Linked DNA regions of Homo sapiens: all the other regions are linked to region 3. The links come from fine-mapping of genetic effects on gene expression. A gene starts in region 3. Each other region holds a variant in brackets. All regions are shown on one strand. Distances are between the middles of the regions. Region 1 overlaps SNX29 (sorting nexin 29). Region 2 holds the start of TNFRSF17 (TNF receptor superfamily member 17). Region 3 holds the start of GSPT1 (G1 to S phase transition 1).

Evidence for each region. PIP is the estimated chance that this variant, and not a neighbour inherited with it, causes the effect.
Region 1: its variant is fine-mapped to the expression of GSPT1 in whole blood (TOPMed, PIP above 0.99).
Region 2: its variant is fine-mapped to the expression of GSPT1 in whole blood (TOPMed, PIP above 0.99).

What each region holds. Positions count from the first base shown.
Region 1 is chr16:11,978,295-11,986,475 of GRCh38, forward strand. The region is part of intron 1 of SNX29 (sorting nexin 29); the gene reads left to right. Among named protein-coding and RNA genes, the nearest start is that of SNX29, 5.7 kb to the left of the region's middle. The variant T/G (reference allele first, on the strand shown) is at 4,141.
Region 2 is chr16:11,962,836-11,971,016 of GRCh38, forward strand. TNFRSF17 (TNF receptor superfamily member 17) reads left to right here and starts at 2,375. Exons shown (of 3, transcript NM_001192.3): 1 at 2,375-2,619; 2 at 3,360-3,506; 3 at 4,735-5,233. The coding sequence starts at 2,490. The coding sequence ends at 5,012. It also overlaps a transcript of NPIPB2 not described here and the pseudogene UBL5P4. RefSeq lists a silencer at 242-411 and enhancers at 1,923-2,042, 2,163-2,602. The variant G/A (reference allele first, on the strand shown) is at 3,609.
Region 3 is chr16:11,912,798-11,920,978 of GRCh38, forward strand. It overlaps GSPT1 (G1 to S phase transition 1), which reads right to left and starts at 3,159. Exons shown (of 15, transcript NM_002094.4): 1 at 2,572-3,159. The coding sequence starts at 2,923. RefSeq lists silencers at 2,289-2,338, 2,379-2,618, 2,709-2,778, 3,489-3,548 and enhancers at 2,603-3,540, 3,149-3,298, 4,599-5,099.

The DNA of each region.
Region 1 (8,181 bases), 65 kb after region 3:
AGGAGCTGAGGTAGGTTGGTGTAAGTGCAGGCCCTGAGGCCAGACATCCTGGGTTCAAATCTTGGCCCTGCCACATAAACCTGTGTTATTTAAGAGTAAGTTCTCGACCATTCTGGGAGTCCCAGCAAAATGAGGATACCTAGTAGTACCTATCTCCTAGGCTTGTAATGACTAAATAACATTCATCAGTTAAAGTGACTGGTACTGTGAATATCACGAGGTGCATTGTCAGAATCTCAGAGCTGCCTGCTGTTGTTTCTGCAAGAGCTCATGTGGGGTAGGAGTGGGGTTGTTTTTGCCTAGTTATGAGAGGAGGGCTGGGACTAGGCACTGTCTGAAAATCTTTTCCTTTTACTATGACCAAGGAGTCTTTGCCACAAGCTCACAGTTCTGGACCCTTTTCGTTTTACCTTTAGCACAAGAGACAATGAAATTGATAAGCCAATAGAAATTGATCAGTTTATCTTTCAAGGAGAAATAATATGAAAACTCTGGTGGCACGCGCCTGTAATCCCAGCTACTTGGGAGGCTGAGGCAGGAGAATCGCTTAAACCCCGGTGCCAGAGGTTGCAGTGAGCCAAGATCAAGCCACTGCACTCCAGCCTGGGCGACAGAACAAGACTTCGTCTCAAAACAAACAAACAAACAAAAAAACAAAAGAAAGAAAACTTTAAAATTTAATTAAAAAATCATTACGTCTGCTGGGTGTGATGGCTCACACCTGTAATCTCAGCACTTTGGGAGGCAGATGCAGGCTGTCACTTGAGATCAGGAGTTTGAGACCAGCCTGGCCAACATGGTGAAATCCCATCTCTACTAAAAATACAAAAACTAACAGGGCATAGTGGCAGGCGCCTGTAATCGCAGCTACTCGGGAGGCTGAGGGATGAGAATCTCTTGAACCCAGGAGGTGGACATTGCAGTGAGCGGTGATCATGCCACTGCACTCCAGCCTGGGCAACAGAGTGAGACTCAGTCTCCAAAAAAAAAAAAAAAAAAAAAAAATCGTTACATCTAAAGCCAAAGAGAAAAGGAAACCAACAAATGACTTTTTAGGAAAAAGCATTAAGGATGAAAACCTTCTTTTGGAAACATTGTAATTGAGGCAGAAAAAGTGGTCTGTGAAAATGGAAGGGGAAGTCCAACGATATATTTTGTTTCTTGAGAATGCAGTTGAAAGTGGGTTTCCCCACTTGTGGGGTGGGTAACTGGTACACGATAAAATAAAGTGGCATGGAAATATTTCCTCTTTCTTCTGTTCCCCACTTATAATATTTTGTTTATTTATTTATTTTATTTATGTTTTAGAGATGGAGTCACGCTCTGTCACCCAGGCTGGAGTGCAGTGGCAGGATCTTAGCTTACTGCAACCTTCGCCTCCTGGGTTCAAGCAATTCTTCTGCCTCAGGCTCCCAAGTAGCTGGGACTATAGACATGTACCACCATGCCCGGCTGAGTTTTGTATTTTTAGTAGAGATGGAGTTTCGCTGTGTTGGCCAGGCTGGTCTCGAACTCCTGGCTTCATGTGATCCACTTGTGAACTCCTGGCTTCATGTGATCCACTTGTGAACTCCTGGCTTCATATGATCCACCTGCCTCAGCCCCACAAAGTGCTGGGATTACAGGCATGAGCCACTGTGCTCCGGCCATAACATTTTATTTTATAGTGTATTTTAAAAACTCAGAATCTAAGTAAGGTTTAAACAGTGCACATTGGTTTGTGTTTTAAATCTTTTAGGTCTCTCCCTCACCTCCTGTTTATTTTATTTTTATTTTTTGGTATTTTCAGAGCCGTGTAAACATCACCATAGTTAATTTCACAACATTTTAATTACCTTAGAAAGAAACTTTGTACCCATTAGCAGTCATTCATCTTTCCCCCTCCCCTCAGACCCTGGGAACCACTCATCTACTTTCTGTCTCTGGATGTGCCTGTTGTGGGTATTTCATATAAATGAAATCATACAGTATGTGACCTCTCTTATCTGGCTTTTTTCACTCGGTATAATTTTCCTGAGGTTAAACCACATTACAGCATATATCTGTACTTCATTCCTTTTTGTGGCCACATTATATTCCTTTATGTGGATATCATATTTTGTTTATTCATGCATCAAAAATGGGCATTTGAGTTGTTTCTACTTTTTAGCTGTTCTGAATAATAATGCTGCTATGAACGTTCACGCACATGTTTTTGTGGGGGCAAGTCTCTTCATTTCTCTTGGGCATGTTTGTAAGAGTGGAATTGCAGGGTCATATGGTAACTGTTTAACCATTTGAGGAGCTGTGTCAGACTGTTTTCTAAAGTGGCTGCACCATTTTCAGTTCTCACCAGCAGCATATGAGGGTTCTGTTTCTCCACACCTTCCCCAAGAGTCTTTTTAATCATAGACATTCTAGTGAGTGTGAAGTGGTATTTCTTCGTAGTTTTGATTTGCATTTCCCTAGTGACTAGTGATGTTGAGCATCTTATCTTGTGCTTATTGACCAATTGTGTATCCTCCTTGGAGAAATGCCTCTTCAGATCCTTTGGCCATTTTAACATTCGGTGGTCTTTTTATTGCTGATCTATAAGAATCCTCTGTAATTTTTAGATACTAGTCCCTTATCAGGTTTATTGTTTACAAAAATTTTCTCCCCTTCCATGGTTTGTCTTTTCATTTTCATTTTCTTTTTTTTTTTTTGAGTTGGAGTCTTGCTCTATCACCCAGGCTGGAGTGCTGGAGTGCAGTGAGAAATCTCGTCTCACTGCAACCTCTGCCTCCCAGGTTCAAGTGATTCTCCTGCCTCAGCCTCTGGAGTAGCTGGGACTACAGGTGCACACCCCCACACCCAGCTAACTTTTTTGTTGTTTCAGTAGAGATGGGGTTTTGCCATGTTGACTGGGCTGGTCTCGAACTCCTGGCCTCAAGTGGTCCGCCTACCTCAGCCTCCCAAAGTGCTGGGATTACAGGCATGAGCCACCGCACCTGGCCAATTTTTGTATTATTAGTGTTGATGGGGTTTTACCATGCTGGCCAGCTGGTCTCCAGCTCCTGACCTCAATTGATCTGCCTGCCTCAGCCTCCCAAAGTGCTGGGATTACAAGCCTGAGCCACCATGCCTGGGCTCTTTTCACTTTCTTGGTGGTGTTTTTTGAAGCAGTCTTTTTTTAAACTACAGGCTGCCCTTTAATCTCTCTCCTTTTCCCCCTTGCATTTGTTGTTGAAGGAAACAGAGTTATTTATCCCAAGGATCCTTTGCAGGCCTCTGCTGATTGCATCCTTTTGGTGTGGCATAAAGTGTTTTTCAGTCTCTTGTATGTGCTATAAATTGGTAATTAGAGTCTGCTGTATTTTTGAGTTGAAAATATTTGAGTAGAGTCAGAGGAGAGATGGGTGCAAAGCTGAATACATTAAGTACAAATAACCAGGCAGTGGAATGGCGCTAGGTAATATATATATACAAGATAAATGGGTATCATGAGGCCAGAAACAACTAAGATGACCATTAATTGGGGAGTAGGTAAACCTAGTGTGCTGTGGACACCTGACGGAAAGCCTCAGAAATGTTAAAAGGATTGATACGGATTCATACACATCACCGTGGCTGCATCTCAACGTTAATGTTCTGTAAGAAAAGCAGGGTGGGTCTGGCGTGATTGCTCACGCCTGTAATCTGAGCCCTTTGGGAGGCCCAGTTGGGAGGATTGCTTGAGTCCAGGAGTTTGAGACCAGCCTGGGCAACATAACGAGATCTCATCTCAATTAAAAAAAAAAAAAAGCAGGGTGTAGAATTATACCTAAAATATATACCTTGATGCAAATTAAAACATACTGAAGACAATATTTATGGATTCATATATGTATGTAGACCTAAAAAGATTATCAGGAAGAAAGATGCCTGCCAGACATGTGTGGGTGGTTATTGTAGGGTGGTGGTCACAATTTGTTTATTTTTCTTTAAAGAACCCAGTAGATAGGAATACTTGATTGCCCACCTCTTCAGACTATGTAAGGAATGCTGATTTTCAGATATGTGTTTGTTGTTACTGGGAAAGTAGAACTCGTAGAGCCAGAAAGTCATTATACTCAAGTTTTGTCTTTTGTAAGTCTTCATCCTTAAGTTCCTGGATGCTCCTTTCCATCAGTTTTTTTTTTT[T/G]TTTTTTTGTTTTGAGATGGAGTCTTGCTCTGTCACCCAGGCTGGAGTGCAGTGATGCGATCTCGGCTCACTGCCAGCTCTGCCTCCTGGGTTCAGGCCATTCTCCTGCCTCAGCCTCCCGAGTAGCTGGGACTACAGGCGCTTGCAACCACGCCCAGCTAATTTTTTGTATTTTTAGTAGAGATGGGGTTTCACCATGTTAGCCAGGACGGTCTCGATCTCCTGACCTCGTGAACCACCTGCCTCGGCCTCCCAAAGTGCTGGGATCACAGGCGTGAGCCACCGTGCCCGGTCTCCATCAGTAAAGGAGACACTGAGATTCCTGTTTCAAGGGTGAGGAAAGCCAGGCCCATAGTGATCAAACAATTTGTGTAACAGATGAGCTCTAAGATTCATCATATATCAGAGTTTTGGGCTTAATGGGTAATTTACTGCTGTTTCTTGCCTGACGTTAATGTATATTTTGGCAGCTTTTTATTAAAAAAAATTTTTTTTAATTAACGAATATTTTTTTGAGACAGATTCTCACTGTGTTGTCCAGGCTGGAGTGCAGTGCCACTATCTTGGCTCACTGCAACCTCTGCCTCCTGGGCTCCAGTGATTCTCTTGCCTCAGCCTCCTGAGTAGCTGGGATTACGGGCGTGCACCACCACGCCTGGCTAATTTTTTGTATTTTTAGCAGAGATGGGTTTTGCCATGTTGTGCAGGCTGATCTCAAAATTCTGAGCTCAGGTGATCCACCTGCCTTGGCCTCCCAAAGTGCTAGGATTACAGGTGTGAGCCACTGCGCCTGGGTTACAATTTTTTTTTTTTTTTTTTTTTTGTAGAGATTGGGTCTTACTACGTTACCCAGGTTTATCTGGTACTCCTGGCCTTAAGCCATCCTGTCTCAACCTTCCAAAGTGCTGAGATTATAGTTGTGAGCCACTGTGCCCAGCTGCTTTTTCTTAGTTTTCTGGAATGTTGAAGGTCACAGTTTTCTCCTCGGCACTGACTGGGCCCTCTCTGACAGTAGCTTGTACTTAGAATAAATAATCAGCTGAAATGAATGAATGAATGAAAAAAGAATATTTGTGGTTTTCATTCAAAGTAGAAAAGTGATGCTATCAACATTTTTTCCCCCTTGTGAAGGCACTGGATTGATCTATGATGGTGGAATGCAAGAAGTACATGTTCTACCATCAGCAAACAGTTGACCCCCACCTCTGCTAGCAACTGGCGATGGACTAGGTCCTACTGATGTTGGCTATCTTGCCTCCTGGTTGCTTGACTCCAGGTAACTGATAGGAACTCAAATGCTTAGAGCTCTTAAAATTTGGAACTAAAATCCAAGATTTTATAGATTTCTCCAAATTGTGGCAATGTGAGCATATTTCCAGATAAAGCACCTTCCATCTGCCACTGTCTTGTCTATACATAGGCCGTATATTTGCAGTGGGGGTGATATCACCCCCAAGGGGGTGAACACTGGTTCTCAGGAGAGAAAAAAAACTTACTTGGATGTATAAAGCACAGATAGGCATATAGTACATAAACAGATGTACATTGTATCTGTGGTATTACTTTTTCATGGAGGGGATGATTAGCAAAAAAGTGTCTAAAAAGTGTCCTTAGGGGGAAAGAATGAAAAAGATTGAGCTGGACACAGTGGCTCACACCTGTAATTCCAGCACTTTAGGAGGCTAAGGTGGGAGGATCGCTTGAGCCCAGGAGTTTGAGACCAGCCTGGGCAACATAGTGGGACCCGTCTGCCGGTCTTTGTACACACACACACAAATTAGCTGGATGTAGTGGTGCATGCCCATGGTCCTAGCCACTCGAGAGGCTGGGCTGACGTGGGAGGATCACTTGAGCCTGGGAGGTTGAGGCTACAGTGAGCCATGAAAGTACCATTGCACTCCAGCCTGGGTGACAGAGCCAGACCCCTCAGACCCTGTCTCAAAAAAAAAAAAAGAAAAGATTGAGACTGATATAGGCTGCAGTAATTGTATTATTATCATACAACTTTGCATCTTGCTTTCACCATTAACATTTCAGGACAAAACTTTACCACATTGCTCCATGGGCTCACTATTGATCACTTTTATGGAATGTACAGTCCATCATTCATCATTTTGCATGTAGTACAACTTTTAACTATTGATTCTAGTTGTAGAAACTTAGCCTATCTTCCTCTCTCCCTCTCCTCCCTCTCTCCCTCTCTCTCTCCCTTCCTCCCTTTCCTCTCTTTTTCTTTTGAGACAGGGTTTTGCTCTGTTGCCCAGGCTGGAATGCAGTGGTGATACAATTATAGCTCACTGCAGCCTTGATCTCCTGGGCTCAAATGACCCTCCCACCTCAGCCTCCTGAGTAGCTAGGACTAAAGGTGCGCCACCACACCCGTCTAACTTTTTCATTTGGTGTAGAGACAGGGTCTCAGTATATTGCCCGAGCTGGTCTTGAACTCCAGACCTCAAGTGATCCTCCTGCTTCAGCCTCCCAAAGTGCCAGGATTACAGGTGTGAACCACTGTACCTGGCTTTCCTTCTTTCTTTTTTGTTTCTGTTATAAGTAATGATGCAGTGAACATTTTTTTTTCAAGGTAGTTTTCCATCCCTTAGATTATGTCTGTAGGGAGATTTTCCAAAAGTAGCATTAACATCGAAGAGTTTATCACTTTTGATTCCTTTTTTTTTTGGCCTATAATTAAACTCAGTTGAATTGATTTGATTTTTTCCAAAGTGGTTGCACTAGTTTCAATGCTGCTAGTAAGAATAAGGGCTCTGGTGGAAGCAGAGGTTGGCCAGAAATTTGGGGTTCAACATTCAGCAAACATTGGATGATAGTTTGGTGCATCCTCTATCACTTATCAAAAGGTTGTTACCACTGGGGTCTGTTGAAGCAAAAGGATGTTGTTGGGACCGTGCTGAGTGTGTTAGCCAGGGCTCTTTTCAGTGGAATGTGGCAGAAGCTGATGAAACTGATTTCAACAGCATGGGAATATATGGTGTCTTGTAATGGAAAAGTCTAGACATAGGGCTGGCTTCAAGCTTAGCTGGATCCACGTGTTAAAGGACTATCAGGATTATCTTTCTGTCTGGCTGTCAACTCGTCTTTTCTCTCTGTTGGCTTCACCCACAGGCAGCCGCTCCTCCATGGAGCGGGCTGGCCATGTGGTCATCCTGCAACCCATCACTGTGATTTTGGTTGGCCAGGTCTGGACCATAAGTCTAGTCTGGAGCCTGTGGCTGGGAGTCCATCCTACTAAATTGTCTGGATGGAGGATGAACTTCAGGGGAAGGGCTGCTGTAATTTTGGATGGGGTGGTTAGGAATGTGATGTGGCAGCAGAGGCTTCCTGAGGCAGGTGGCTCCTAGGTTTTCTTCCTGAGCAGCTGAAAGGGGTTGGAATTGCCTTATCTTTTTTTTTTTTTTTTTGAGATAGAGTCTTGCTCTGTCACCCAGGCTGGACTGTAGTGGCGTGATCTTGGCTCACTGCAACCTCTGTCTCCCATGTTCAAGTGATTCTCCCGCCTCGAGCGCCACCATGCCTGGCTCATTATTGTATTTTTCGTAGAGATGGGGTTTCACCATGTTGGCTAGACTGGTCTCGAACTCCTGACCTCAGGTGATTCACTGACCTCGGGCTCCCAGCGTGCTGGGATGACAGGTGTGAGACACTGTACCTGACCAGAATTGCCTTTTCCTGAGGTGGGAGAGCCAGTAGGGGAGCAGGTTAGGTGGGGGCTGAGCAGTTTGAATCCTGCAAGGGGAGTGAGGACTCTTTTCCTTGCCCTGACTTTTTGCTGTCCGGGAGCCCTTCAGAGACCTGGCACTAGTGTTTCCTCTGCTCACCCAGGCAGTACCCCGCTTCCTCCGAGGAGGGAAACTTGCCCACTCCATCTCATTTTTCTTCGCTTGCATCTGTGTTTCTTGGAATCTGCTCTTTCCTCCTACAACTTAAAAAAAAAAAAAAAAAGCGAAAACCCAAAATGACATTAAAAACTATTGTGAAAACAGAATATACCTTTAAATATACATTCCTGGCACATTTAATATTTAA
Region 2 (8,181 bases), 50 kb after region 3:
AGGCAGGTGGATCACGAGGTCAGGAGACTGAGACCATTCTGCCCAATATGGTGAAATCCTGTCTGTACTAAAAATACAAATATTTGCTGGGCATGATGGCGCATGCCTGTAATCCCAGCTATTCCGGAAGCTGAGGCAGGAGAATCACTTGAACCCGGGAGGCAGAGGTTGCAGATCGCACTACTGTACCCCAGCCTGGCAACAGAGGGAGACTCCATCTCAAAACAAACAAACAAACAAACAAACAAATAAATAAAAAATCATCCAGGCTAGGTGGCTCATGCCTGTAATCCCAGCAGTTTGAGAGGCCAAGGCCGGTGGGTCACCTGAGGTCAGGAGTTCGAAACCAGCCTGACCAACACGGTGAAACCCCGTCTCTACCAAAAATACAAAAACTAGCCAGGCGTGGTGGCATGCACCTGTCATCCCAGCTACTCAGGAGGCTGAGGCCAGAGAATCGCTTGAACCTGGGAGGTGGAGGTTGCAGTGAGCCGAGATCGCGCCATTGCACTCCAGCCTGGGCAATAACAGTGAAACTCCAGCTCAAAAAAAAAAAAAAAAAGAATAAGTTTTTAAAGGTTGGGGTGCTTGGAGGATGAAATAAAGTAGAAGGGATGGCAGGTTTCCTTGGCACACTCCTTGGGCCTTAAGAAAGTGTAAAGAATAAGAAAAATACAACAAAAGGAAAACAACAAATATCAATGTATCCACCACTCAGCTTAATAAAGAAAATATAATAAACACAGGTGAAGCCTTTTTTGTGCTCCCCTTCTTCCCCACCACTTACCTCAGAGATAATCACTATACTGAATTAGGAGTTTGCCATTTCCTCAAATTTTAATTGAGTCCTGCATTTTTGACAAACATCTGGACGTCTCTATATGGGTATTTCACTCAGTATGGTTAAAAGCAAATTCAAGCTGGGCTTAGTGGCTCACACCTGTAATCCCAGCGCTTTGGGAGGCCGAGGTGGGTGGATCACTTGACCCCAAGTGTTTGAGAGCAACCTGGGCAACACGGCAAAAACCCATCTCTACAAAAAATACAAAACTTACCAGGCGTGCTGGCGCATGTCTGTAGTCCCAGCTACTTGGAAGGCTGAGGTGGGCAGATCACCTGAACCCAGGAGGTGGAGGCTGCAGTGAGCTGTGATTGTGTCACTGCACTCAGCCTGGGAGACAGAGTGAGACTCTGTCAAAAAAAAAAAAAAAGGCAAATTCAAGTGATCCATTTATGTAAACAGAAAAATGCACTATATAAATGTATCTATCTAGAATTCAGGGATCGGTGAAACAAAAGACATCGCATCGGCAGGTCTGTTTGCAACTTCTGGGATACACCAGGTGTTAGCGGTGATGACTTCTGGATGCTTGGACTGTGGATTTTTAAAATGGTTTTATCTGCTCATCTGTATTTCTAAATTTTCAACAATGGAACATAGATTATTGTATTATTATTATAATACCCCAAACCTATCTTCCTCTCAGCCCTCTTTCCACGAGCTCTTACCCTAAATGTCTCTTTTTCTGTCAGTGGCATTGTGCGTCTTCCTTAGTGCATCACCTCTGATCTTCCTGTAGAATTTTTTTTTTTTTTGAGATAGAGTCTTGCTTTGTCACCCAGGCTGGAGCGCAGTGGCCTGATCTTGGCTTACTGCAAACTCCGCCTCCTGGGTTCAAGCACGTCTCCCTGCCTCAGCCTCCTGAGTAGCTGGGATCATAGGTGCCTGCCACCATGCCTGACTAATTTTTGTATTTTTAGTAGAGACGGGGTTTCACCATGTTGGCCAGGCTGTTCTGGAACTCCTGACCTCAAGTGATCCACCTGCCTCGGCCTCCCAAAGTGCTGGGATTACAGGAGAGCGCCACGGCGCCCAGCTTACACCAGACTACTTTTTAAAATGTTTTTGTAAAGTCAGGGTTTCGCCATGTTGCCCAGGCTGATTTTGAACTCCTGGGCTCAAGCAATCCTTTTGCCTTTTGACTCCCAAAGTCCTGGGATTACAGGTGTGAACCCCTGCAGCTGGCCTCAATGTTAAGATCTTAAGGGGCACAGCACAGACCTTGTCTTGTCTATCTCCCTGGCACCTCTCACAGAGTACAGCTTATTAACAGATGTTCCAGAAACTGTTACTGAACATTCGGCTTGATGCTGTGGGCTTGTCTGCATCTTGCAACTGTCACCTGGCTGAGAAATTTCTTCTATAAATAAGCAGTTTCTGTTTCAGATGTGATATGCCCTGATATTTACACCCTGTCTCTTACCCCATCCAAGACTCAAACTTAGAAACTTGAATTAGATGTGGTATTCAAATCCTTAGCTGCCGCGAAGACACAGACAGCCCCCGTAAGAACCCACGAAGCAGGCGAAGTTCATTGTTCTCAACATTCTAGCTGCTCTTGCTGCATTTGCTCTGGAATTCTTGTAGAGATATTACTTGTCCTTCCAGGCTGTTCTTTCTGTAGCTCCCTTGTTTTCTTTTTGTGATCATGTTGCAGATGGCTGGGCAGTGCTCCCAAAATGAATATTTTGACAGTTTGTTGCATGCTTGCATACCTTGTCAACTTCGATGTTCTTCTAATACTCCTCCTCTAACATGTCAGCGTTATTGTAATGCAAGTAAGTAATATTGCTTGAACGATTATTCATTGGTGTGAACTATTCTGTCTATATGGACTGCTTATTCAGAGAATCAACATAATGGGCATGATGGTGAGTTTTCTTGAATCAAAAAGAGAAAGGAAGCAAGGCAGTGATTTTAATGTTTATGGAAACAAAGTAATTATTTGGAACTGAACTTGATATGATTCAGCACTATTAGCAACATAGATTTTTTTTAAAAATCAGCTCTTCTAATTAAGTGATATTTAGAATTTAAAAGTCAATGTTCATTAATTAAGGTGATTGAATGGAAATAATCCATACTTGATTATTTTGCTATCAAAACAATCCATAATTCATTATTTTAGCAAAATAATCAAGTATGACAGCCGGGTGCGGTGGATGGCTCACACCTGTAATCCCAGCACTTTGGGAGGCCGAGGTGGGTGAATCACCTGAGGTCGGCAGTTTGAGGCCAGCCTGGCCAACCTGGTGAAACCCTGTCTCTACTAAAAATACAAAAAATTAGCTGGGCATGGTGGCACAGGTCTGTAATCCCAGCTACTCGGGAGGCTGAGGCAGGAGAATTGTTTGAACTTGGGAGGTGGAGGTTGCAGTGAGCCGAGATCGCGCCACTGCACTCTAGCCTGGGCAACAGAGCAAGACTTTGTCTCAAAATAAATAAATAAATAATAACAATAAAGTATGTGAATATTATGTTATCAGCTCATTATCTGTCTGATGTTCTTTTCATAAAGGTGTGACCAATTCAGTGAAAGGAACGAATGCGATTCTCTGGACCTGTTTGGGACTGAGCTTAATAATTTCTTTGGCAGTTTTCGTGCTAATGTTTTTGCTAAGGAAGATAAACTCTGAACCATTAAAGGACGAGTTTAAAAACACAGGTTGGTTTGATGGTGAATCTTTGAAATCTATTTCCAGGGGATGGCTATTGTGAGTTTCAGTTCCTTTTCTTTTTTTAGCGTTGACTATTTCACTTCGTTACA[G/A]CCCTTTCGAATGTGTTAGAACATTGTTACATTAAATGAACTTGGTAGAGGTGAGCCATCTTCATTCTGATTTTGACACCTTGGCAGATTTTCTACAATGTCAGTCTTCTCCAGGATTCTTCCACTGTTAATTACTCTATTGAAAGTACTAAGGCTTTCTTGGGAAACATCAGTCTCTTTGACTAAAGTTAGCACATCGATTAAATGCCACATTATCAGAAACTCCTAGCCAGGTCTGCTACTGTCAGGAAAAGCATATTTGTCAAGATCTATGGTCATGTTTTTATACAAATATAGGTGTTCTTTGCTTGAGTGAACATTTTACTACTGAAAAATGTTAGAAATGAATAACCAGTTGCTCCTGAATTATTTGAGGAATCATCTAAAAAATAATTATTTTTAAGCAATAGAGAACCAGTCCCAGAAAAATGAATGTTCTACTTAAGTGCCTCTTAAGATAAAAATACTTCTGCAGCACCTTTGCTCATGATTGGATTCCCAAGCATGTACAGCCACTGCCCTATTTCTGTATGCATTTATTTATTTATTTATTTATTTATTTATTTATTTATTTAGAGATGGAGTCTCGCTCTGTGGCCCAGGCTGGAGTGCAGTGGCGTGATCTCAACTCACTGCAGCCTCTGCCTCTTGGGTTCAAACAATTCTCCCATCTCAGCCTCCTGAGTAACTGGGACTATAGGTATGTGCCATCACCTCCGACTAATTTTTGTACTTTTTGGTAGAGACAGGGTTTCATCATGTTGGCCAGGATGGTCTCAAGCTCCTGACCACAAGTGATCTGCCCGCCTCAGCTTCCCAAAGTGCTGGGATTACAGGCGTGAGCCACAGGGCCCAGCACATACTCATTCTTTTTTACTGAAAAGATCTGTTTCAAGCTGGGTGTGGTGGCATGGAGCTGTAGTCCCGACTGCTCTGTAGGCTAACGTGGGAGGATTGCTTGAGCCCAGGAGTTTGAATGCAGCCTGGGCAACACAGTAAGACCCCACCTCTAAAAAATGAAAAAATCTCTCTCACATTGCTTTGAGTCCCGATGTGTACTGCTAAGACTCTCATGACCACATTCTCTGTGAAGTTTGGGTTAATGTTTCCGTTTCTACATAATTAGGATCAGGTCTCCTGGGCATGGCTAACATTGACCTGGAAAAGAGCAGGACTGGTGATGAAATTATTCTTCCGAGAGGCCTCGAGTACACGGTGGAAGAATGCACCTGTGAAGACTGCATCAAGAGCAAACCGAAGGTCGACTCTGACCATTGCTTTCCACTCCCAGCTATGGAGGAAGGCGCAACCATTCTTGTCACCACGAAAACGAATGACTATTGCAAGAGCCTGCCAGCTGCTTTGAGTGCTACGGAGATAGAGAAATCAATTTCTGCTAGGTAATTAACCATTTCGACTCGAGCAGTGCCACTTTAAAAATCTTTTGTCAGAATAGATGATGTGTCAGATCTCTTTAGGATGACTGTATTTTTCAGTTGCCGATACAGCTTTTTGTCCTCTAACTGTGGAAACTCTTTATGTTAGATATATTTCTCTAGGTTACTGTTGGGAGCTTAATGGTAGAAACTTCCTTGGTTTCATGATTAAACTCTTTTTTTTCCTGACATCTAAGTTTTTATTAACGTGAGTTTTTAAAAACAAGCATGTATACCAGTGTGGGGGGTGAGGGTGGGAGAGAAAGGTGGGAGGGGGAAAGAATTCTAACCTATTGATAATAAAGCTCCAGTTTTGGCCAGGCGCGGTGGCTCATGCCTGTAATCCCAGCACTTTGAAAGGCCGAGGCGGGCAGATTACCTGAGGTCAGGAATTTGAGACCAGCCTGGCCAACATGGTGAAACCCTGTCTTTACTAAAAATACAAAAATTAGCTGGGCATGGTGGTAGGCACCTGTAATCCCAGCTACTCAGGAGGCTGAGGCAGGAGAATCGCTTGAACCTGGGAGGTGGAGGTTGCAATGAGCTGAGATAGCATCCCTGCACTCCAGCCTGGGCAAGAGGGTGAGACTCCGTCTCAAAACAAAACAACACAAACAAACAAAAAGACCTCCAGCTTCATCTTCTGCTGGATTTTATAGTGCCCCAAAGATATGTGGTCCTTAAAAATTGTATACCACTTATTCAGGAGTCTTGTTCCTGAAAGGGTTGTTCTTGTTACAGCCCTAGTCTGGGCTGTAATCAGCTTCTTAAGGTCCACAATGGTGTTATCTGTGTAGCATTTAACACAGACCTTCTCCACACTATCCACTCTCCACTGAGGTTGTTGCAAACAACCTCAATCATCCTAGCTGATGCTCATCACCTTGAACATGCTGACATGACAATCTTCTCACTAGAGACCTCTAAACGCTTGACTTACTGAAAAAAACAGCATTCTGTAGATCTCAGTAACCAATTTCTTTTTCTTTTCTTTTTTTTTTTTTTGAAACGGAGTCCTGCTCTGTTGCCCAGGCTGGAGTGCAGTGGCATGATCACAGCTCACTACAACCTCCACCTCTCAGGTTCAAGCGATTCTCTTGCCTCAGCCTCCCGAGTAGCTGGGATTACAGGCACGTGGCACCATGCCCTGCTGATTTTTGTATTTTTAGTAGAGATGGGGTTTCACTGTGTTGGTCAGGCTGGTCTTGAACTCCTGACCTCAGGTGATTCACCTGCCTTGGCCTCCCAAAGTGTTGGGATTACCGGTGTGAGCTATCGCGCCCGGCCCCAGTCATACGCTTCTATGGTTAGGGCGCTTCTCTCCGATATACATACATACAGATTTCAGGAAGGATCGGATGTTTCTCTTGATTTTTGAATTTTATTTATTTATTTTTTGAGACAGTCTCGCTCTGTCGTTGACACGGGAGTGCAGTGGTGCGATCTCAGCTCACTGCAACCTCTGCCTCCCGGGTTCAAGCAATTCTCTGCCTCAGCCACCCGAGTAGCTGGGATTACAGGTGCCCGCCACTGCGCCTGGCTAATTTTTGTATTTTTAGTAGAGACAGGGTTTCACCATCTTCGCCAGACTGGTCTTGAACTCCTGACCTCGTGATCCACCTGTCTTGGCCTCCCAATGTGCTGGGATTACAGGCGTGAGCCACTGTGCCTGGCCTTTTCTCTTTATTGTTAAAGGAAAGCTAACTTATGTACTTCTGCAAACAGGAGAAGCCTAGAATCAACCAGACGAATTCAGTGTGCAGTGCACAGGTGGTTCTTGGCCTTGTGAGCTTCCAGCTTAATGAAAGCATCAGGCATTACTATAATTACACAAGTAAATGTGTAATCGCAAACTGTGATAACGGTGCACGACATACTGTTTTCAGCCCAAAATGTGAGTGGTGCTATAATAATCATATCTAACCCTTATATAGTCTTACTAACGTGCCAGGGACTGTTCTAAGTGCTTCACCTGTACTAGCTCATTTTATTTTTTTGAGACGGGGTCTTGCTCTGTTGCCCAGGCTGGACTGCACTGGCATCATCTTGGCTCACTGCAACCTCTACCTCAAGAGGTAGGTTCAAGAGTCTCCTACCTCAGCCTCCCAAGTAGCTGGGATTACAGGTGCCCGCCACCACACCCGGCCTATACTAACTCATTTTAAGCACACAAAAACTCCTGGGTATGGCCGGGTGTGGTGGCTCATGCCTGTAATCCCAGCACTTTGGGAGGCCGAGACAGGCAGATCACCTGAGGTCAGGAGTTAGAGACCAGCCTGACCAACATGGTGAAAACCTGTCTTGTCCCACATTTCCAGTCTTTATTTTTATTCATTTATTTATTTATTTTTGAGATGAAGTCTCACTCTGTCGCCCAGGCTGGAATGCAGTTGTGCTATCTGAGCTCACTACAACCTCTGCTTCCTGGGTTCAAACAATTCCCCTGTCTCAGCCTCCTGAGTAGCTGGGACTACAGTCGCATGCCACCATGCTCAGCTAGTTTTGGTATTTTTACTACAGATGGGGTTTCACCATATTGGTCAGGCTGGTCTCGGACTCCTGACCTCAGGTGATCCACCCACTTTGGCCTGCCAAAGTGCTAGAATTATAGGTGTGGGCCACTGCACCTGGCCTTCCAGTGTTTAAAATCAGCATTTTTTTTTTCTTTCTTTTGAGACACAGTTTCACTCTTGTTGCCCAGGTTAGAGTGCAGTGGTACGATCTTGGCTCACTGCAACCTCCAACTTCTGGTTTCAAGCGATTCTCCTGCCTCAGCCTCCCGTGTAACTGGGATTACAGGCACCTGCCACCACGCCTGGCTAATTTTTGTATTTTTAATATAGACGGGGTTTCACCTTGTTGGACACGGTGGTCTTGAACTCCTGACCTCGTGATCTACCTGCCTTGGCCTCCCAAAGTGCTGGCATTACAGGCATGAGCCACCGCGCCTGGCCTAAAATCAGCATTTTCTTACTCGTTTCTTTTTTTTTTTTGAGATAGGGTCTTACTCCAATGCCCAGGCTGAGTGCAGTGGCATAATCTTGGCTCACTGCAGCCTCGACCTCTGGGGCTCAGGTGACCCTCCCACCTCAGGCTCCTGTGTAGCTGGGACTACAGGCATGTACCACCATTCTCGG
Region 3 (8,181 bases):
CTCTTGGCCAATTTACTTGGCTCTAGAGAACTGTGCTTAAATGAATTACACTTAATTACACTTAAATGGGTTCCACTTAATTATTTCTTAAGGAACCTATATTCTTTAGTTTTCAAAGAGATCCAAGGTCAATACTGAATCCCAAGGTCTGACTCTCCAGGCTCCTTCAACAGCTTTCCCGGCATGCAGTTTAAAAACACACCCAGCACAAATTTCGGCTATGGCTTAACTAAAGAACAGAACATGCTAGCCCTATTGTCCACTTCCTCGCTATCAAAAAAACCTTGCAAACTTTTTGGTTCCCCCTTTGTAAGTTCCAATCCAGGTGTTATTTCCTATTTATCCCCCTGCTTTTTATAAGCACTGATTGTTCTCCGATGCTGGCTTTTTATGGACTTAATAGTCTGGAACATGCAATCCAACAGTCTCAATATAACCCTGGACCTCAACTTAGAAAATCAGTTCTTTTCCAAATAGACATCCTACATAGGATAATTTTTTAAAAACATGAACTGGCATTTTGGTACAAGCAATTGGTAAAGTCGGTAACACCAAAATAGTTTTTTGATTAAAAACAAGAAAGTTGACCATGCTGTACGGATTCTCTTACTGACAGCTACTTCCCTACAGGTTTTCGCATCTCCAATTTCTAGCACTGTCAAAGAGAAAAAGATTAGGTGTAACTACAAATTAGCAACTATCAGGAAGAGAGAAAGCCCGCATAAGAGGTAATACCTAGTCACCAACAGTGACCATTCTAGACCAAGGTTGGTTATCCCCGGATGACTCGCTGGACAGGCTGTAAATGGAGTCCTGAGTCTAGTCAGAGTGGTGCTGGTGGCTCCACAGAAAGGAGGAAGAGCCAAGAAAGAAAATGGCTGGATAAACGGAATCTGCAAAGTAAGGTAGGGAATGGGCACTTTTAGGAGCTGAGAAGTGAACTAGGTTAGGCAGTCAAAATGGCTTGATGTAAGTCAAGAATTACAAGCTAAGCTTCCTTATTCAAGAGGAAAACATTGTCTAGAGCCGTACCACCCTGAAAGTGCTCGATCTCCTCAAAAGAAAACATCAACCACCCACACAAATAAATGCCACTGTCAACAAAACCACCAAATCAACCGTGCTGACGTACATACGTCATCAGAGTGTTTCTCCAGACACTATCCCTTTACCACGAAAGAGCAAACGGTGACAAAAGTTTCTGTAGAAACCAAACTCCTGGAGCACTTTTATAATGTCCACTTATCTAAGAACCACCACAATACAGAACTTTAAAGAGAGAAATCAACAATATGTTCTCACTTAAAATGCGCTGGATGTCATGACCCACCCCACTAACGTCCTGGCTAAATGATGAAAGGACGTTCAGCCTTTTCCTTCCTTTTTCATTTTCTCTTTAAGGAAACACTGATAGTTCCTAAAATAAGCACCATTAGGAAGAGAATACTTAAGTTCACTCATTTGACATTCCCACAAAATCAGTACCTGAAAGCAAGCTACCTACCACAAAATAAGCACCATTATGAGAATACATAAGTTCACTCACCGGATATTCCTACAACGTCAGCACCTGCAAGCATGCTACCTACGACTTAAGCAACCCCTAAGTACGGGAAGATGTTTAAAAACCAAAGTTAACTCGAAATTTTATGGATTAGAAAATGTATGTCTACTAGCTACGGTCAGAAAGACACGTGAGAACTATTAAATTATAACAAATGCTCAAGTGTCTGAAGAAATAGACTGAACTACTGATGCACGAACACAGTGAGTTATTCCAAGCAATCTGAATAAGGTCAACGATTTTACAGCAATGAAAATTCTCTAAACGTGTCGCTGACAAAGGATAAAAGTGTAAGCTTCACTTTAAAAAGACACAAATCAATATAGTCTCCTATCACACATTAAGTGAGGAATCCTAACTTTGTGGCACTTTGTAAACTTTAGAAGCGTACACAATGCTAAGGGTAAAACAGATCTTGGTATTGATAGCCAAGTTTCTGCCCGATCACAAGGCTGCAATGCATCTTGGGATTCCTTCAGGACGGTTGGGGGCCACGGACAGTTTAAACCGTAATTACAGTTTCAATAGTAGAAAACGCAGCAGAAGACGCTCTCTCGGCTGGGCCTAAGGTGAAAGGAAAACTCGGCCATTCGTCCTCCCCAACTCCTGGGATCTCTAAACGCCCACCCAAATGACTCCTGGCTCCATCTGTCCTCATTCTGCGCCTCGTGGCAGGGATCCGCCGCGGCCCCCACTCCGTTCCATACGGTTCCCATCTCAAGTGGGTAACTGCGGACTCCAGAGCAGGGCAGGGGCGCGGAGGGGCGGCACTCGGGTCCGGGTCTTTGGGCGCGCTGCCCGCTGTCCGCTCCCCGCCCGGCCACCGCCGCGGGCCGCCCCGCGAAGGCCGGCTCCCGGGCTCGGGGCGCCCCACCCAGGCAGACGGCGCCACTGTCAGCGCCCCACGTGCCGACCGGGCCCCAGGGCCGCGCGCCCCCGGACCGCACCCCTACGCCATGTGGGCTCCGGCGCCCGGCCGGACTTCCTCCCGCGTCCCGGGCCTTTACCCGCACGGCCTCCCGCGCCGCTGCCGGCTCCGTGGTTATTGGCGGCGCCGCCAACTGGGGGTGGCGGCGCTGCCGGGCCCCGCAGGAAGGACGGCACGAACTCGGCGGCGTGGACGTTGGGCACGAAGGGCTTGGCGTTGACGTTGAGTTGCCGGCTGAAGGCCGCGCTGAGGTTCTCCCGCTGGGCCTCGGCCGCCGCCGCCAGGGAGCCGCCGCCGCCGCAAGGGCCCGGCCCGGGGGCTTCCATGTCCGCCTGGTCCCAGCAGTCAGGCGCCGAGTCGCTGCTGCTGCTGCCGCTGCTGCTCCCGCCGCCGCCGCCGCCGCCGCCGCCGCCGCCACTGCCCGGATCCATGATCGGGGGGGCCGTGTGTGTGGTGGACAGAGAGCGGGAAATGGAGGCAGGGGCGCCCGGCCGGAGAGGAGTGGGCAACGCTGACTGAGGGAAGGCGGCGGGGCAGAAGGGCCGGGAGCTAGCGACAAAGATCCCCGGCGTCGCCGCGGCAGCAGCTCCAGTCCCGACTCCACACTCGCGACGACGACAGAGGCGGCGGCGGCGGCAGCTCAACCCTCCTCCTCGTGTGTGTGAGCGGATCTCCTCCCACCCAACCACCTCCGACGGCCTCACAGCCAACCCCACCCCCGGCGCGGATTGACCCCTCGCCGCCACCCGTACCTTCGCCTCGGTAGTTCTCTGTTCTGGCCGCCCCCGTTTCCGGCTATTTAGCGCGGCGGGAGGTGGAACTACAAGTTCCGGCAGCGCCCGCGCTACCCCGCTGCGGTTTTCCCGGGGGCCGACGGGAGTCGAAGTTCAGGGACAGGGCGCAACCGGAAGCGGCTCCGGCTCCCGGCAGGCAACGCGAGGAGGCGGAGGTCTGGTGGCCGCTCGGCGGCCCCACCTGTCACCTGGTGGGGGGGCAGCGGCAGGCCCTGGTTGGTGCAGCTCTGTGCTGGGCCGAAGACCGAGAGTATTTTAGCCCATAGGAGGGGTCCACTCTGGCCTGCTGGACACAGGCTGGGGGAAAACGGACAGCATCTATAACATGGGGAAGAAAAATACACTCAGCTCCCGAAAATTCTTGTACTCTCTTTTCACCACCTTTCCTGCGTTCTCTGCCTCACAGTCTCCGTACCTTATTCTCTCTCCACCTTCTTTCTCCTCACCCCCAGCCAGATTTTGCCCTTCATTTCAAAGCCGGTGCAGATTGCAAAGCTGATTTCATTTTATGTAATCATTTCGTGGAAGAAACAATAAAACCGTGAGATATTCCGGCTTAAAACTGCAGTGTGGCTCATAAAGCGCTGGGGCCCAGGCTCTGCCCAGGCAGAAGGGATTGTTAACTGGAAAATTTCAATGACTCACCGTTTGTTTGACTAGTCATATAAAGCCTTCACCCAAATTTTTCCATCCTTTCCTCCTCCCCGCCAAAGGGTTTGCAAATTAAACAGAGGATTGCCGTATTCCATGGTGTATCCGGCTTACCTAACAGGGTTATTTTGGTGAGTCTAGCTTCCTTATGCACCATTACGTGAAGTGGTTTCCTTTTGAATGGTCTGATTTGCTCAAGAATTCCCATAGTACTTTTCATCGACTGCATCTTACACTTACAGATTAGGTAAACCTGGGAAAAGAACAAAAGCAAACGAGAAATACTTAAGAGTTCGCATTTAGGCCCTTCATGAAGTAGGAAAAAATGTTGCTCTGAGTACCTGTTAAGCTTTCCTGTAATTCACCCATGTGGAGCCCAAGACAGAGAAAAACATATTGTTAGTATTTTTCTGAAAGGAGTCTAGACAGGGTGCAACTAATCTGCCTAGAAATTACAGACTAAAGAAGCACATACATAGAATAGATGTTTCTGAACAACCTTAGGTTGTTAAAAAAAAAAAAAACCTAACAAAATCCAGATCTAGATCTGTATTTTAATTTTCTTTTTTCTTTTTTTTGAGACGGAGTCTTGCTCTGTAGCCCAGGCTGGAGTGCAGTGGCGCGATGTCGGCTCGCTGCAAGCCCGCCTCCCGGGTTCACAACATTCTCCTGCCTCAGTCTCCGGAGTAGCTGGGACTAGAGGCGCCCGCCATCACGCCCGGCTAATTTTTTTTGTATTGTTATTAGAGACGAGGTTTACACCGTGTTAGACAGGATGGTCTGGATCTCCTGACCTCGTGATCCGCTCGTCTCGGCCTCCCAAAGTGCTGGGATTACAGGCGTGAGCCACCGCGCCCGGCCGATCTGTATTTTAATTTTAAACATCTGTATTGTAAAGATAAAAGAGAACTCAGCCTAATGAGATAGGTCAAAAACGAAGCTGTCAAGTATTTTTCAAAAGAGTCCTAGGCTACAGTAATTTGAATTTAATATTAAACTACCAAGCTTTAGGGATTAAAAAAACACATACCGGCCAGGCGCAGTGGCTCACACCTGTAATCTCAGCAATTTGGGAGGCCGAGGCAGATGGATCACGTGAGGTCAGGAGTTCGAGACCAGCCTGGCCAACGTGGTGGAACCCCCGTCTCTACTAAAAATACAAGTTAGGCCGGGCGCGGTGGCTCACGCCTGTAATCCCAGCACTTTGGGAGGCCAAGGTGGGCGGATCACGAGATCAGGAGATTGAGACCATCCTGGCTAACACGGTGAAACCCTGTCTCTACTGAAAATACAAAAAATTAGCCGGGCGTGGTGTGCGGGCGTCTGTATTGCCAGCTACTCAGGAGGCTGAGGCAGGAGAATGGCGTGAAACCAGGAGGCGGAGCCTGCAGTGAGCCGAGATCGCGCCACTGCACTCCAGCTTGAGCGACAAAGCGAGACTCTGTCTCAAAAAACAAACAAAAAAAGCGATCCACCTGCCTCAGCTTCCCAAAGTGCTGGGCTTATCGGTGTGAGCCACCACACCCGGCAGAGTTTGCCTCTGCTTAATAGGAAGTTTTGGTTATAGCCTATTATTATACCTGAAGACCTCACTGAATCATACTTAACAATGTCCATTTTAAAGTTGGTATTAAGTGACTGTCAGATTTACAGAGAACTTAACAACTGTTATGAAAATTAGAACTTCATTTATGCGAGACCTGTATTGCTATTGAATAAAAGATTTTCATCTTATATTCACAAGAAAAAATACAATGTGTTCTAAATGAAATGCCTTCTCTTTCCAGATTTTCACTCCCCACCCACCCACCCCTAAGAAAATGTCAACACAATCAGCTGACTCAAATAATGAACTACACATCCTTCTCTAAGCATTTTGTCTTTGAATACTACTCTCCTCCATGTAGCACTCCTACAGCACTGAATGATCACTTTCTCATAGGTTAGTTCTTCACATCTAATTGAATTAGCAGAGTTTCCTTCTGCCTGGTACTTTTTCTAGGGACAAAGGCAGAAACTGCTCAGACTGCTGCTTAGAAAAGCAGTTGATGTCATTAATTTCCTTGTCTCTGAATAGGATAATTATGGATATTCAGGAAAAAATCCACTCCATTGGTTTTCCAAAGCTTTGACCTGCCAAACAGAGCTCCAGCGGAAAAGGGAAAAGTCTTTCTTGTTAGTTGTGCTAAGTTGTGTGTAAGTTGTGCGACTTGAGGGCAGGGTCTTACCTTAATCTTCTTTACATTTCCACTGCCTAGTGTAATGCCCGGTGTATAAAAGGTGCTTAATCAATTTAGCTGGGATGATACTGTCCTTTGATACTCATTTAAGACTGCTGACACATAGGGCTAATAATTTTATTTATTTATTTATTTTTTAAATAACTTGAGACTCTTGAGACAGAGTCTCGCTCTGTCGCCCAGGCTAGAGTGCAGTGGTATGATCTCAGCTCACTGCAACTTCCACCTCCCAGGTTCAAGCGATTCTCCCACCTCAGCCTCCTGAGTAGCTGGGATTACAGGTGTGCACCACCACGCCCAGCTAATTTTTGTATTTTTAACAGAGACGGGGTTTCACCATGTTGGCCAGGATGGTCTCAATTTCTTGACCTTGTGATCTGCCCTCCTTGGCCTCCCAAACTGTTGGGATTACAGGCGTGAGCCACCACGCCTGGCCTGTATTTTTTTTTAGTAGAGACAGGGTTTCACCTTGTTGGCCAGGCTGGTTTCAAACTCCTGATCTCAAGTGATCTGCCTGCCTTGGGCTCCTAAAGTGCTAGGATTACAGATGTGAGCCACCGCACTTAGCTATTTTAATTTAATTTAATTTTATTTTTTGAGATGGAGTCTTGCTCTGTTGCCCAGGCTGGAGTGCAGTGGAGCAATCTTCACGCACTGCAACCTCTACCTCCCAAGTTCAAGCAATTCTCCTGCCTCAGCCTCCTGAGTAGCTGGGATTATAGGTGCCCGCCACCCCCCCTCCCCAACCCCCTGGTAATTTTTCTATTTTTAGTAGAGACAGGGTTTCACCATATTGCCCAGGCTGATCTGGAACTACTGACCTCAAGTGATCCTCCTGCCTCAGCCTCCCAACGTGCTAGGATTACAGGCATGAGCCACCACACCCCACCCCAGGACTAATAATTTAGAAAACTTAGGAAAAATCAGAGTTTTTCCTACTCTCACACACAAGTCACCGCTCAACACAGAGTACAGTCCTCTCTGGGTAGAGGAAGGGGATTAGTTCCAGGAGCCCTTCAGATACAAAAATCCAACCATACTAAAATCCCACAATCTATACTGTGTGTATGAAAGGTCAGCCCTCCCTACACTTGAGTTCCTGCATCCTGAGAATCCCGTCTTTTTGATCCTCATTTGATTGAAAAAAAAAATCCATGTGTAAGTGGGACCCTCGCAGTTCAGGCTCACATTGTTTAAGGGCCAGTTGTACTCCACCAGTAAGTGAGGGAGTTTCTACCCACCACCAACCAATTCTTCAACAGACACCAACAGGATAAGCAATCATTTCACTCAATTCTGACATTAACCAGAGTTAGGACAGATCCCACAAGTTAAGGGATCAGTCCCACAAGACTGCCCCCACTTCCAATGCCAATAACAGGTTCCACATTGTGACCTGTGCTTCTGACCAACTGGCTATGAATTGGGGGTTCCCATGACCCCCTCCATGGGTTCAGGGAATTTGCCAGAGTGGCTCACAGAACTCAAGGAAACAGGGCAAACACGGTGGCTCATGCCTGTAATCCCAGCACTTTGGGAGGCCGAGGCAGGCGAATCACCTGAGGTCAGGAGTTTGAGACCAGCCTGGCCAACATGGTGAAACCCTGTCTCTACCAAAAAAATACAAAAATTAGCCGGTTGTGGTGGTGGGTGCCTGTATTCCCAGCTACTCAGGAAGCTGAAGGCAGGAGAATCGCTCGAACATGGGAGGCAGAGGTTGTAGTGAGCCAAGTGCTCCACCACACTCTAGCCTGGGCAACAGAGCAAGACTCCGTCTCAAAAAAAAGAACTCAAGGAAACACTTTACTTACAGTTACCCATAAAGGACATTACAAAGGATACAGAGGAACAGCCACGTGGAAGAGATGCACAGGGCTGGGAAGGGGCATACAGTTCCTATTCTGTCTCCAGGTGTGCCATCCTCAAGGGTCCTCCACGTGTTCAGCAACCCAGAAGCTCTCTGAACCCTGTCCTTCTGGGTTTCTATGGAGGCTTCCCTACATA